Linked DNA regions of Homo sapiens. The protein of the gene in region 2 purifies or fractionates together with the protein of the main gene of each other region. This does not show direct contact. Each region holds a gene or a part of one and is shown on either strand. Other genes may lie near its edges.

What was found. The genes of interacting proteins can lie anywhere in the genome.
Region 1: the proteins of ECHDC2 (region 2) and CTU1 purify together in Homo sapiens (affinity purification with mass spectrometry; 3 studies listed by BioGRID and IntAct, with this or other methods). This does not show direct contact.

Annotation. Positions count from the first base shown.
Region 1 is NC_000019.10:51,105,410-51,113,113, forward strand, and holds the start of CTU1 (cytoplasmic tRNA 2-thiolation protein 1), read right to left. Parts: upstream 3,001-7,704; 5' UTR 2,938-3,000; intron 1-2,937.
Region 2 is NC_000001.11:52,904,671-52,911,741, forward strand, and holds part of ECHDC2 (enoyl-CoA hydratase domain-containing protein 2, mitochondrial), read right to left. Parts: coding exon 7,053-7,071; intron 6,984-7,052; coding exon 6,896-6,983; intron 3,285-6,895; coding exon 3,198-3,284; intron 1,942-3,197; coding exon 1,849-1,941; intron 767-1,848; coding exon of another isoform or gene 672-766; exon of another isoform or gene 421-671; coding exon 364-420; intron 164-363; coding exon 1-163.

The DNA of each region.
Region 1 (7,704 bases), on a different chromosome or scaffold from region 2:
TCTTCCCCACCCAGCCTAGACTCCAACCCTCCAGTCAAATCCTGGTCCTGCCTGCCTGGTGAACCCATAAAAACTCCCCAGGCTCAGTTCTCCTCCCCAAGCCACCATCACCTCCAGCCTGGACTACTGTAGTCACCTCCTTGCCATTCAGAGCAGGTCACGCTGCTTCTAGGATTTACCACAATGTGTGGAATTATTTTATGTGACTATATATTTACCATCTCTAACTTCTATGAGGGCAGAGACCAGTACCACTCAGATGTCTAATAGGCATCTCAAAACCCAAATTCCTGATTCTTCTAACCCAGCGTGCTTCTCCTGGAGTACAGGGCAGCTCCATCCTTCTAGCTGCTCAGGCCAGGAGCTTTGGGGTCCAGGACCCTGGACTGCTCTTTCTCTCACTGCACTTGTCATGCTCCCAGTGGGTGGCACCAAACTGCAATGCCAAGTCCGGACCTTTTCAAACTCCAGGTACCTAAATGAAATTTAGCAAATCCTGTTTGAATGTAGTTTCAAAACAGCCAAACACTTAGGACCGTCTCCACGGCAGCACCCTAGTCTGGTCTGTCTCTCTCCTGGACGGCTGCATGGGGCTCCCCACAGGTCTCCTGCTCCCGCCTTGCCTCCTCTACAAACACTCCTTCACATAACAGCCAGTGGGATCATGCCCTGAATCTTCTCAGCATCCTCCCCTGGATCCCATCTCACTTTAGTATAATAACTGCTAATGGCCGATGAGGCCCTACATGTGTGGCTCCTTGTTTCTCCAACCTCCTCTCCTTCAGCCTTGATGTCGTTTACTCTGACACCTGAGGAATACTCCTGCTCCAGATGTTTGCACTGGCTCTCCCCTCTGCCCTGAGTACTCTTCCTGCCACTGAGCCCAAGAAGCAGCCCTTAGGACTCATCTGCAGTGACCGTCGGGAACATCTGTCACAGGTGAGCAGCAACTCTTGGAATCTTTCTTCCCCCGACTTTTGACTCACTCCTTCTGTGCTCCTGGATTTCCTGCTCAATTCTCTTTTGGGGACGCCTCTTCATGTCCTCAGGTCCTGCCTAGCACCCATCTCTTTCCATTTTTTAAAGATTTTTAATTTAATTTAATTTAATTTTTTGAGATGGAGTCTGGCTCTGTTACCCAGGTGGAATGCAGTGGCACAATCTCGGCTCACTGTAACCTCTGCCTCCCAGGGTCAAGCGTTTCTCCTGCCTTAGCCACCCGAGTAACTGGGACTACAGGCGTGTACCACCATGCCTGGCTAATTTTTTTTTTTTTTTTTGTATTTTTAGTAGAGATGCGGTTTCACCATGTTGGCCAGGCTGGTCTTGAACTCCTGACCTCAAGTGATCCGCCCGCCTCGGCCTCCCAAAGTGCTGGGATTACAGGCGTAAGCCACTGTGCCCAGCTTCTTTCCATTCTTATGAGCGCCTCTGAATCATGATATTCAGATGTCCCTCCTGGCTGGTCCTCCACATGGCTGGGGCACCTTAAAGATGTTCAGACCCTAAGCGCCCAGACAACCTATTTCTTCCTCGAAAGGCAGAAACCTGTTCTTGCCCATCTGTTCCCTCTCTTCTGAGAGCAGCCACCACCTTTCATCCAGCCCATCTGCAGGACAGGACGTAACGTCACCCTGGACTCATCTCTCCTCACCCCCTAAATCTACAGTCACCCAGTCCTGGGGGGTCCACGTCCTGAGGAAGGGAGACGCTCGCAGGGGACAAGGCTGCACAAGTTAGCAGAGCCTCATAGGCCATGATGTGGAATTTTAGGTTTATTCAGGAGGAGATGGGAGCCTTGGGAGGTTTTTGAACAGTAAAGTGGTATGATCTGGCATGTTTTAAAAGGATTCCTAGACTGGTCAACATAGCGAGACCCCATCTCTAAAAAAATAAATAAATAAATTAGCTGCACCTGGTGGCACAGGCCTGTAGTACCAGCTACTCAGGAAGCCAAGGCAGGAGGATCACTTGAGCCCAGGAGGTCAAGGCTGCAGTGAGCCATGATCGCACCAGTGCACTCCAGCGTGGGTGATAGAGTGAGACCTTGTCTCAAATAAAAAAAGTGGGATTCGTTTGGCTGCTGTGTGGGGAGGACTGTTGGTTGTCAGGGACAAGGACAGAAGGCTGGAGGTCAGCACACTAGACAGGAGTGCTGGCAGTAGAGGTGGGAAGAAGTGAAATTTTGGATCTATTTTGAAGGTGGAGCCCACAGGACTTGTATAAGACTGATTGGAGTGGGGACTGGGGCAACGACGAGAGAAAGTGATGAAGGGTAACTTTGAGGTTCTGGCCTGAGCATTGGAGGGACGGTGGGGCCATTTTGTGAGGTGAGAAGACCAGGAATTCCATTTGGCCACGTCAGGTTTGACATGCATGTTAAGCGTCTTCCCTCAAAGACTTTATGGACCCTCGTCACTGAGTCGAGCGCCTCCACCAGGGCCCTCAGAGCTGCCCTGATCCTGACTAGCTGTCACTGGTGACAGGTCTGTCTCTCTGCTTCAAGGCAGGGACAGGGTTGGTCTGGTGCCCTCGCTCCCGCCGCCCTGCGCAGAGTCGGTGCTCAGTAAGTATCTGTAGGATGAGGGAATAATAAGTGCTCCCAGAAGAGAGGCCGCGGACCCCAGGGATGCCTCTGGATTGCAGCCTTGTCAAAAGGACAGATAATGTGTGGCATGGGGGCGGGGACAGGCAGATAGTAACATAGGGGCGGGGGCAAGCAGATGGTCTTATCCTGTCTTGGGGAAGGGAGTGGCCCGGTAAGAGACAGGCCGGACCGCAGCGTTCAAAGTGGGAATCCTGGCTACAAGGCCTCAGGGACACGGGCGCTGGGAAATCACAGAGGCCTTACGCTCGAAGAGACCCTCAACCCTCCCACGGCACCGCAACAAAGAGCCGGAGTCCACATGCCGACCCACCGCAGGAGGAAATACTCACCCGGGCAGAACTCAGTGCTGGGATGCCCACACTGCCCACCACGCGGAAGCCTGGCCCGGAAGTGACTCCGAGACTACCACTCCCATAAGGTCTTGGGGCTTTCTTGCCTAGAACTCCCAGAAGCCCATGCGACACTTCCGCTGGATGCGCCTACGGCTCCGGGGTCCCGCTTGGCCTACAACTCCCAGAAACACTTGCATTGCTCTTTCTGCCGCTCCCAAAATACACTGCTCCCCCTCCCCCCGCGTTTACTTTCTGCGCCTGCGCGCGGCCGCAGGGAGCGGCGGAGCTGCGTGTACTGTTGTCATGGCAGCGCGCTGTCACCCGGCAGGTTGCTGGATGGGCGAAGTAGTTGTATTCTGATTAACTGATTTTGTGGGATTATTATAGGATTTTAAGGGGATTACAGGGCCTATGATTTCTGCCCTTTGAGGCGGGGTTGCGGGTGGGAATTGAAGGTGGAACTGCAGGGGTTGGTCGCTAGTGTAAAAGGCGCAGATAGCGCATGCGTAGAGCAGACTTCGAGGATTGGAGTGGAACTCCGCGCGCACGCGGGGGCTGTCGTGATGCGCGTGCTGGAGACCCAGACTCTAAACAGAAGGATCCAAAGACCCTTCTCACCTAACCCAGGAGCCCAGAGGCTCAGAGACTCAGACCCTTGAGACTAAGGGGGTTAAAAACGCAGACCCCTGGCACCAAAGCACCTGAGAGAACCAGTAGACCTGGAGACAACCGTCTGCACCCTAGACACAGGGATCTGGAGGCCTCCACCCTCCCCACAAGGCCCAAGGGTCTTGAAGACCCCGGTGACTCAAATACCGGGGCACAAGGAGTTTAAGGACTCAGATATCTGAGACCCTTGAGATCCAGGTCCCCAAACCTAGGTCCTCGAAAAAACTGAGGCTCAAAATTCCTCTAGACGGCGCGGTGGCTTACACCTGTAATCCCAGCACTTTGGGAGGCCGAGGCGGGTGGATCACGAGGTCAAAAGATGGAGACCATCCTGGCCAACATGGTGAAACCTCATCTCTACTAAAAATACAAAAATTAGCTGGGCGTAGTGGTGCGCGCCTGTAGTCCCAGCTACTCGGGAGGCTGAGGCAGGAGAATGGCTTGAACCCAGAAGGCAGAGGTTGCAGTGAGCCGAGATCGCGCCACTGCACTCCAGCCTGGCCACAGAGTGAGACTCTGTCTCAAAAAAAAAAAAAAAATCCTCTAGATTAAGGGACCACCAGAGCCTTAGACTGAGATGTGGAGATGTGCAGAGAGCCCCAGGATGTGTAGGTCTACGGCCGGTGATGACGTGAGAAGGAACCCCATGCACCCTGTAGCCCATTTTTTTCCCCCATAACAGGAAACCATGATGCCTTCCTTTCATATTAAATGAGCTCCGTGAGGTCACTCTTAAGCCTTATCATGGGCCAGTTCTGTTCATCTGTGTGCGTTGGTTCATTTGTTGAATTTATTTCCTGAGGTCTCCTTGTGCCAGGCTGCCCCTGGGCTAGGTTTAGGTGACACAAATGAATCAGACTTGGTTACTGTCCTCTGAGCATCCCCCACCCCTTACACCACCACCCTGTCCTCCTGGTGGGGGAGACAGGGACTTAGTCAATATGGAGTGATAAAGCTTGACATGGAAGTGTTAAGAGCCTTGAAAGCTCAATTTCAATCACTGCCAGCCAGGGTGTCAGAAAAAAAAAAAATTCAACAAAGGCTGCTATGTGCCATGCATCATCTCAGTTTGTTCATCTGTGAAAGGGGGGCAATAATAGCCTGCCTCATAGGATTTATGCGAAGTCAAATTGAATTAACAACACCTCTAAAGAATTTAGAACAGCTTCTGGCACATAGTATGTGCTCAACAAGTGGTTATTATTCTCATCTCAATTCTCATAACATTAAGATTATATGTTACATATGAGTTGGGTACAACTGTAATTCTTCTTCTTCTTTTTTTTTTTTTTTTTTTGAGATGGAGTCTCACTATGTCACCCAGGCTGGAGTGCAGTGGCGCGATCTCGGCTCACTGCAACCTCCACCTTCTGGATTCAAGTGATTCTCCTGCTTCAGCCTGCTGGGTAGCTGGAATTACAGGTGCGCTACCACACCTGGCTAATGTTAGTATTTTCAGTAGAGACGGTGTTTCACCATAGTGGCCAGGCTGGTCTCAAACTCCTGACCTCAAGTGATCCCAAAGTGCTGGGATTACAGGTGTGAGTCAGCATGCCCAGCCTTGTAATTCTACTTAGGTGAGGATCTTGAAGCTCAGTGATGTCACTTCCCTGGACTGCCTGACTCTACAGCAGGGGTTGCAAACCTTTCCTGTAAAGGGCCAGGTAGCCAATATTTTAGGCTTTGTGGGCCACAGGGTCTTTGTGGCAACTCTGCTGTTGTATGTTGAAAGCAGCCATTGATATAAGATAAGCAAGTGAGGGTGGCTGTATACCAATAAAACTTTATTGATGGACACTGACATTTGAATTTCATGTAATTTGCATGTGTCAGGAAATATTCTTCTTTTGAAGAATTTTGAAGATTTTACACCATTTAAAGATGTAAAATCATTTGTAGCTTGTGGGCCATGTAAAAACAGGCAGCAGGCCCGATTTGGCTGGTGGTCTCTGGTTTGTAGCTCCTTGCTCAAAGCCTGTCTCCTTAGTCTCCAAGCTGTGCTTGCTCCTGGAAGAGGTGTGAAGTGTGGCAAAGGAGGTTGAGAATTTGAGGGTCGAAATGGCCTTTTAATACAGAAGAAATCGCCTGAGCAAAGAAAGATCTTGTGGCAAGAAAGCACAGGGTGCCTTTTGTTTGAATGCAATTTATGTTATCTAATCAGGTTATGCACTTAAATGCTATAAAATGGAAACAGTGCATAGACTCTACAGTGAAGTCTCCCTGTCGTCTCCCCCCACCCACCCACTGTCTAGTTCTCCTCCTCAGAGGCAGCCTCTGTCCTGCAACAATGTGGGAGTGCATGCTGAATCGGGGTGTATAGAGTTTCCCCATTCTCCTCTGTGGGACCAGGATAAGAGTGGGATATTTGGGGCTCCAGAGATAGATGGGAAAAGAGGTGAGGTCAGCCATGAGAAGCCCTCTCACTCCCAGCCCTCTGCTGTCTGGTTTCTTTCCTGTCTCCCCTAACACAGTCTCCCGATCAACACCAGTGGCCTCTTTATTGACAAATAAAGGTCTAACCTGGGCTCTACCTACTTCTGAGTCTCTTTGCCCTGACCACAAAATCTACCCTCCCTGGTCCTCTTTCTGGCCAAACCATGTCAATCAACTTGCCAGGAGCCTTGTACTCCACAGCGCTGTCATTTCTCTGCAAACTCCCCAGGTGAGCTCATCCACTCCTGCCACTCCCGCAACTTCCGTCTCTGCCCTGATGCCTCCCCACTTTCCTGCATATCTCCACTGCATCCCGAGACTCGGACCTGCACAGTTAGCCCCTGGTGGTGGCACTGGCATGCTTCAGCCTCTAGGTGAGGATCCTGAATCACTTCGCTGACTCTTTTTCTCACCCACTGCTCCCCATTGTTCAGTGAAACTTGCCAGTTTTGCTTCTTGAAAGTTTCTCAGACCATTCCCTTCATCCTTGTGGCCCTGCCTTGGCTCAGCTCATCCTTTTTTTTAAATTATTCATTTATTTATTTATTTTTTTTGAGATGGAGTCTCACTCTGTCACCACAGCTGGAGTGCAGTGGCATGATCTCAGCTCATTGCAATCTTCGCCTTCCAGCTTCAAGCAATTCTCGTGCTTCAGCCTCCGGAGTAGCTGGGATTACAGGTGTCTACCACCATGCCCAACTAATTTTTTTATTTTTAGTAGAGACACAGTTTCACTGTGTTAGCCAGGCTGGTCTTGAACTCCTGACCTCAAGTGATCTGCCTACCTCGGCCTCCCAAAGTCCCAGGATTACAGATGTGAGCCACTGCGCCGGCCGTTTCTTGCCTGGACTCTCTCACCCCAACCTCTAATCCCTTCATTCCTGAATCCTCCCACACTAGCCCCAGATTTAACCTTGTCTCTCCCCTTCTCGAAACTCTTCCATGGCTCCCCATTGCCATCAGGCTTTCCATTGTCAAACCTCTGCAGACTGCAACGGAGGTGCTGCATGATCTGGTCCCTGCACACCCTTCCAGCCTCAGAATGCCTTGCCATCTCCAGGTCATCTAGCTGCCATCCTAAGCAATCCGCGTCTGGTGGAAGATATGGTGGCTGGGCTCAGCTGTCTCTCTCCAGCTCTGGGAGCTTTGGTTCCTGCAGCATCAATGTGCATCTCTGAGGGCCATTTCCTATATCTGGTGCTTGTTACTGGCAGCACTTGCTTCCCCACCCCTCGAAGGGCTAGAAGCTTCCCTGGGTAGAATTTCTGCATGAAGAGAGTTCGTTCACCCGTGGAGCCTACTGAGGAACGGGATTTTTGTCTGTGGTTGGTTGGTTTGTCTGTTTTCATTGTAGTGTATCAAACAGTCCTTATTTTGCCCTAAGTCCAGCTCTGTCCCACTGCCTTCTTGTTAGTTTTTGCATCTCCTTACTAAATGGTAGGTCTGCCTGGGTTCCCACAGCAGTGCTAATAAACTTTGTTGGCCAGAGGAGGCACCAGGAAAGACTCTCTGTTGGCAACACTCTCTGAAGGGCCCTCTGTTTCTCTTTGGCCTTGTCTCTCGTTCTCCTCATCCCAGGAGCCTTTTATGTGAGTTTCCACAGCTCCTCCTCGCACCCTCTCTTCTCTCTGCACTTCTCGTGGCTCCCCCCGATGTCTTGCA
Region 2 (7,071 bases):
GCTCGTGCCCGCTGGTAGGCGGCGTCCCCCTCCTCGTTCTGGGCCACAGCGTGATTCACCAGCCCCAGTACGTGGGCCTCAGTTCCACTCAGTCGTCGGCCCGTGAAGATGAGCTCCTTCGCCAGGGCCACCCCCAGACAACGGGGCAGCCTCTGAGTCCCTCCTACCAGGATGGAGGGAGCAGGGTGGGAATCAGCATGGGAAGTGGGAACCCAGAGAAGGCTCAGCCTGGGACTCAGCCAAGACTTCTCAGAGGAGCAGGGTTCAGGTGGGAGGGCAGAGCCCAGAACAGAGGGCAAAAAAGGAAAGCAGCGAAGGACCCTGGATGGGGTGGAATTGGGCGGGTGCTGTAGTTGCGATTACCTGCCCCCGGGAGGAGCCCTCGCGTGGTCTCAATCAGTCCCATGACTGCCGAGGAAGCTGCTCAGATAGAACAAAGTGAGGCCTCCCTCCCCCATCCGGTCCCCCAGTGCTAATCCCGGGGGCCACAGCTGCCTCTGCTGTCTACTCGCCCCTCTAGCCACTTGCCCCATGGTCTGGCCACAGCCAGGCCTCTCCAGACTCTGCCTTTGGAAGAGCCCTAGCCCAGAAGTCAGGAGCCCAGGCCCTTATTTCACCATGCCCCTTTGATGGAGTTGTAAGTCACCAGCAAGTCTCACCCTTCCCAAGCCTCAAAGGTGGAAGAAAGATGGCTGGCCCTCTTCTGTCTGCTTCAGAGAGCCGCTAAGGATCACACGAGGTACGACGCTTGGAACAAGGAGAGTTCCTAGGAGGTGCCCCATATCTATTTGTGGATTACTATTAATAGGTTCTCTGGCTTAGCCCTGGCCTGGCCTAGAATGTCAGTGACTCCTGCTCCTGCTACAGTCGTCCGTTCCAGCTTTGTCACAGCCTGAAATTGCCCTGACTGTTCCAGTCCATGTCCTCCTGAGTTCTGCTTCCTTCCTTCGAGAAACTTGCCTTGACTGACGCACCCCCCCGGGTCTGTCTCCTTTTCTGAATTCCCTCAGCATGGACCATGTGAACGTGGGCAGAAGGGAGTGGGTTTTACATTCACTCCGTCTTAGTCTTCCCCAAAACCCTGTGAGTTAGTTGCGTGAACGTGGGCATGTGAGAAGGAGAGTTGGGGCTAGACCAGCCTGGTATTTTGGTGCCTGGACACCTGGTCAGTTCCTTCTCTTTGACCTGCATTGTGTAGACAGAAGCTACTTTCATGCCTGGAGCTACACATTTTTATATGTTGCTCCTGGGGTGGCAGGAGAGAGCGGTGGGGGGAGAAGGGAAGACATTCAGACTTTGCCTAACTGCATCCAAGAAGGCTGCTCCTAATCACCAGGTCAGTCACCTGAGAAAATGATCAGTTATCTTCTTTATCCCCTCCCATTCTTCAAACAAAGCTCAATTGCTCAGAACAAGTAATGCAAATTTGGCTGGTGCCAGTATTCCTGCCCAGGCACCTTTGTGATTAGCTCAGCCATTGACAAACTATCCCTGAGGCTCACCTTTTTCCGAAACATGGTCGATAAATCTGACTTGGACAGAATGGGAAGACTGGACATTGCTCTTTGACCTCCTTGGCTCGTAACAGCAATTGCTCTGAGGTTGGTCAAATATTCCCAAAATGAAGGAAGCAGGTTCTGACAGGTCACAGATACTACAGCAGCTAATGGCTGCACCAGGAGGGGAAGCAGCTTCTGCCTGAGCACCCTCTGTGCTCTGCCTTGCCTTAGTTTTGCTTTTGGTTGGAAGCCAAGAACAGTGGCTGACTGCAGAATGTCCAGACTCACCCTGTTTCACTCACCCCTGACTCCCTAGCCCCACCCCCTGCCCCCAGTCCTGGCCCAGTACCTGCCACTCGGAGGTCACAGGCCAGGGCAAGCTCTAGGCCTCCGCCCAAGGCAAACCCATCCATAGCCGCAATGGTGGGTGCAGGGAAGGCTGCTGTGGAGAGGAAGAAAGGCTCAGCCTGCAAAGCCCTGGTGGGACCAGGACAGAGACTCAAGGCTGGGGAGGGGCAAGCTGGTTGGGACAGAGGCCTCAGTGGACCCAGGTCTGGGGACATTACATGGAACCTCAGCCAGGTTATCTTAATTCTTTTTTTTTTTTTTTTTTGAGACGGAGTCTTGTTCTGTCACCCAGGCTGGAGTGCAGTGGCATGATCTTGGCTCACTGCAACCTCTGCCTCCCAGGTTCAAGTGATTCTCTTGCCTCAACCTCCTGAGTAGCTGGGATTACAGATGTGCGCCACCACGCCCAGCTAATTTTTTTGTATTTTTTTTTTTTTTTTTTTAAGTAGAGACGGGGGTTTCACCATGTTGGCCAGACTGGTCTTGAACTCCTGACCTCGTGATCCGCCCGCCTCAGCCTCCCAAACTGCTGGGATTACAGGAATGAGCCACTGCGCCCGGCCTCTTTTTTTTCCTTTTTTCTTTTTTTTTTTTTTTGAGATGGAGTCTCGCTGTTGTTGCCCAGGCTGGAGTGCAATGGCACAATCTCTGCTCACGACAACCTCTGCTTCCCGCAGCCAGGTTATCTCAGAAGCCAATTTTCCCTTTAGGGAAAGTTACAGAATCAGCCAGGGAAGAGGAATGGGAGGATGGGCTGGATGATCCCTGTTCAGGCCTAATCCGCTGGCCTCCCTGGGGCCTCCCTTTCTTTGTGCCAAGCCCTGTGCTGGGTGCTGGGAACTGGGAACACAGAATGAATCAGACATAGCCTTTGTTCCCATGGGGCTCAGTCTCATGGGGAAGACAAATGTGTATCAGGCATTATTGACCCAGGATCATCAGTGCTCCAATAAAAAGCTCAGAGGGTGGGTTGGGAAGGCTTCCTGGAGGAGGAGGTACTGGAGGGCTTGAAGGACAAGTAAAAGTTCAAGTAACCAAGAAGGGGTATCTCAGGCAAAGGTAACAGCAATTGTCAAAACTTGAAAGCATGCTTGGGGAAACTTAACTGCTTTGGAATGGCCAGGCTTGAACCCTGAGGGTGGGGCGGGACACAAAAGCTGAAGAGCCAGAACTCCCTCTCTGAGAGAACTGCCCTCGGTCATCCTCCTCCATCCCCCTGGGTGAGTCATCTGTCTTATCACAGAACTCCAAACAGAAAGAAGACTCTCCTTAGATGCTGGTGGGGGTAGCGGGACTGTCATCGGCAGGGACCCCCAAACCCCCTCCTCCACCCCACACCCAGATCCTCACCGATGTCATTCATCAGGCCCCGGAGTCGCTGGACAAACACCCCCACCTCTGCTTCACTCATCTGTTCCCGCTCCTTCAGGTCTGCACCTGCAGATGGCGAGGGTTGGTACCAGCCCTTAGGAAAATGGCACTTTACGGAATCCCAGGCGGTTAAAGGATCCAGCAAAGAAGACCTGAGGACAGGCAGCCAGCGAGGAAGGAGAAACACCAGGAACCCGGGCAAGGAAGTCAAGGGAAAAGAGGAGCATCAAACAAGGAGGGTGTGACACTGCAGAAAGGTGAACTGGACTCCATCAAAATGGAAACCTTCTGTGCATCAGAGGACACTATCAATAGAATACAAAGACAACCCACAGAAATGGCTGGGTGCAGTGGCTCACGCTTGCAATCTCAGCATTTTGGGAGGCCGAGGCAGGTGCATCACCTGAGGTCAGTAGTTCAAGACCAACATGGTGAAACCCTGTCTCCACTAAAAATACAAAAATCAGCCAGGTGTGGTGGCGGACACCTATAATCCCAGCTACTCAGGTGGCGGAGGCAGGAGAATCACCTGAACCCAGGAGGTGAAGGCTGCAGTGAGCTGAGATCGCACCAACTGCACTCCAGCCTCGGTGACGAGCAAGACTCCGTTTCAAAGAAGAAAAAAGAAAAAAAAGAAAAGACAACACACAGAATGGAAGAAAATATGTGTAAATCATATATCTGATAAAGGTTTAATATCTAGGATATATAAAGAACTTCTCCAACTAAACAACAAAACAACCCAATTCAGAAATGGGCAAAGGGCCAGGCGCAGTGGCTCACACCTGTAATCCCAGCACTTTGGGAGGCCGAGGTGGGCACATCACCTGAGGTCACGAGTTCAAGACCAGCCTGGCCAACGTGGTGAAACAGTGTCTCTACTAAAAATACAAGAATTAGCCAGGTGTGTTGGTGGGCACCTGTAATCCCAGCTACTAGGGAGGTTGAGGCTGAGGCAGGAGAATCGCGTGAGCCCAGGAGGCAGAGGTTACAGTGAGCCAAGATTGTGCCACTGCGCTCCATCCTGGGTGACAGAGTCTCAAAAAAAAAAAAAAAAAAAAAAAAAGGAAAAAGGACTTGAATAGACATTTCTCCTGAGGAGATACACAGATGGTCAATAAGCACTTGAAAAGTTGCTCAATCTCATCGTCATTAGACAAATGCAAATCAAAAACCACAATGAGATACTACCTCACGTCTATTAGAATGGCTTTTAAAACAAACAAAACAAAAAGTTGGCATGGATGTGGAGACATGGAACCCTGGTGCATTGCTGGTGGGAGTGTAAACCCATGCAGCTGCTGTGGAAACCAGTTCCAAAAAGTTAAACAGAATTACCATACAATTCTAGTCCCAAGTATATACCCAAAAGAGTTGAAAGCAAGGACTCAAACAGATACAGTCCCTCCTTATCCGTAGGGGACTGGTTCCAGGACCCCTCAGATACAAAAATCCATGGATGCTCAAGCCCCTTGTATAAAATATTGTAGTATTTGCAATATGACCTATGCTCATATATCCTCCTGTATACTCTAAGCCAGGGGTTCCAATCTTTTGGCTTTCCTGGGCCACACTGGAAGAATCGTCTTGGGCTACACATAAAATACACTAACACCAACGGTAACTGATGAGCTTAAAAAAAAAAAAAAAAACACCACACAAAAAAATCTTATAATGTCTTAAGAAAGTTTACAAATTTGTGTTGGGCCACATTCAAAGCCATCCTGGGCCACATGCGGCCCAGAGGCCGAGGGTTGGACAATGGACAAGCTTGCTCTAAATTGTCTCTAGATTACTTACAATACCTAATACAATGTAAATACTATGTAAACTGTTGTACTGTGTTGTTTTTATCTATATTATTTTTTGTTGTTGCATTGTTATTTTTGTTGTTAACATTTTCAATCTGCGGTTGGTTGAGTCTGTGGGTGCGGAACCTGCAGATGCAGAGGGCTGACGGTACTTGTACACCAATGTATTTGGGGACATTCTTCACAGTGGCCAAAAGTGAAAACAACCCAAGTATCTATCAACAGATGATTGGGTAAACAAAATGTGGTATATATACAATAGAATGCTACTCATTACAATAGAATGTTACTCCATAAAAAGGAATGGAGTTCTGACACTTGCCACAACTTGGAGGAACCTTGAGGACATGTTAAGTAAAATAAGCCAGGCACCAAAAAACAAATATGATATGATTCTACTGGTATGAGGTATTTAGAATAGATAAATACATAGAGACAAAGTACCATAGAGGTTACCCAGGCTGGAGGGGAAGGGGGAATGGGAGTCACTGTCTGAACAGGCTGAGTTTGTTTGGTATGATAAAGAAGTTCTGGGAATGGATAGCGGTGACATTGCACAATATTGTGAATGTACTTAATGCCACTCTGAATTGTACACTTAAAAATGGTTAAAACGGTAAATTTTGTGTTACTTATATTTCACCACAATTTCGTTTTTTTTTTTTTTTTTTTTTTTTTTTTTTTTTTGAGATGGAGTTGTGCTCTGTCACCCAGGCTGGAGTGCAGTGGCGTGATCTCAGCTCACTGTAACCTCCACCTCCCGGGTTCAAGCAATTCTCCTGTCTCAGCCTCCTGAGTAGCTGGGATTACAGGCACTGGCCACAATGCCTGGCTAATTTTTGTATTTTTAGTAGAGACGCGGTTTCACCATATTGGTCAGGATGGTCTCGAACTCCTGACCTCAGGTGATCCACACACCTCGGCCTCCCAAAGTGCTGGGATTACAGGCGTGAGCCACTGCACCCAGCCCACAATTTCTAAAATATGTAAGTAATAAGAAAATTAAAACTTGACTAATTTTTACAGGCAGAGTCAGCAAGGTCCAAGAAGGCTGAGAGGTCAAAGGTCAAGTAAACGAGAACGGAAGTGAGCACAAGATACGGTGGCATGCAGGTGGGCAAGCGCCTTGGCGGGAAGAGTGACCGTGGTGGGGTCCTCAAAGGCCAGATGCAGGGGTGAGCAGGAGTAGAGAGTAAATAGACTCTTCCAGTCCTAGACTACAGGAAGTCAGAGCTGGGAGAGCCTTTGGAAATCTTTGATCAGTTCCAGCCCTTCTGTGAGAGATGCGGAAACTGAAGCTCCGAGAGGGGCAGGAACTAGCCCAGGAATTCTAGAGCTGCAATCTCAGCTCACTGCAACCTCCGCCTCCCGGGTTCAAGCAATTCTCCTGCCTCAGCCTCCTGAGTAGCTGGGACTACAGGTGCCTGCCACCATACCCAGCTAATTTTTGTATTTTTTAGTAGAGAAGGGGTTTCACCATGTTGGCCAGGCTGGTCTCGAACTCGGGCCTCAAGTGATCTACCCGCCCCAGCCTCCCAAAGTGCTGGAATTACAGATGTGAGCCACTGTACCCGTCTTGGACTCCATTTTCTTATTTCCCCCGTGAAGGGTCAGAACAAAGCATGGCATAGCCGAAATAACTAAGATCTAAGGGTTAGAGAGGCCAAGTTCAAACTAAAGTCTATCCTACCCCTTACTAGCTATGTGATCCTAGGCAAGGGAATTTTCCTCCCTGAGTCTCTGCATTCACATCGGTAAAATGGCAACAATGAGTCCCATGCTGAAGCTGATCTAAGGTTTCCCCCAACCCCTGGAGGCTGGTGGGCACCCTGCAGAGCACAGATGGGGGCAGGAGAGAGAACCTACCTGCACAGAACACGCCCTTCACTCCACTTCTGAAGAGCAGGACACGCACTTGCCGGTCCTCCCGCAGCTGGGCCAGAGTTTCCAGCAGCTACAGAGGACACCCAGTTAGATAGTGCCAGCCCATCCCCAGCCCACCCTGGCGCCCGCCCTTTCTTACCTCACTGACGAAGACATTC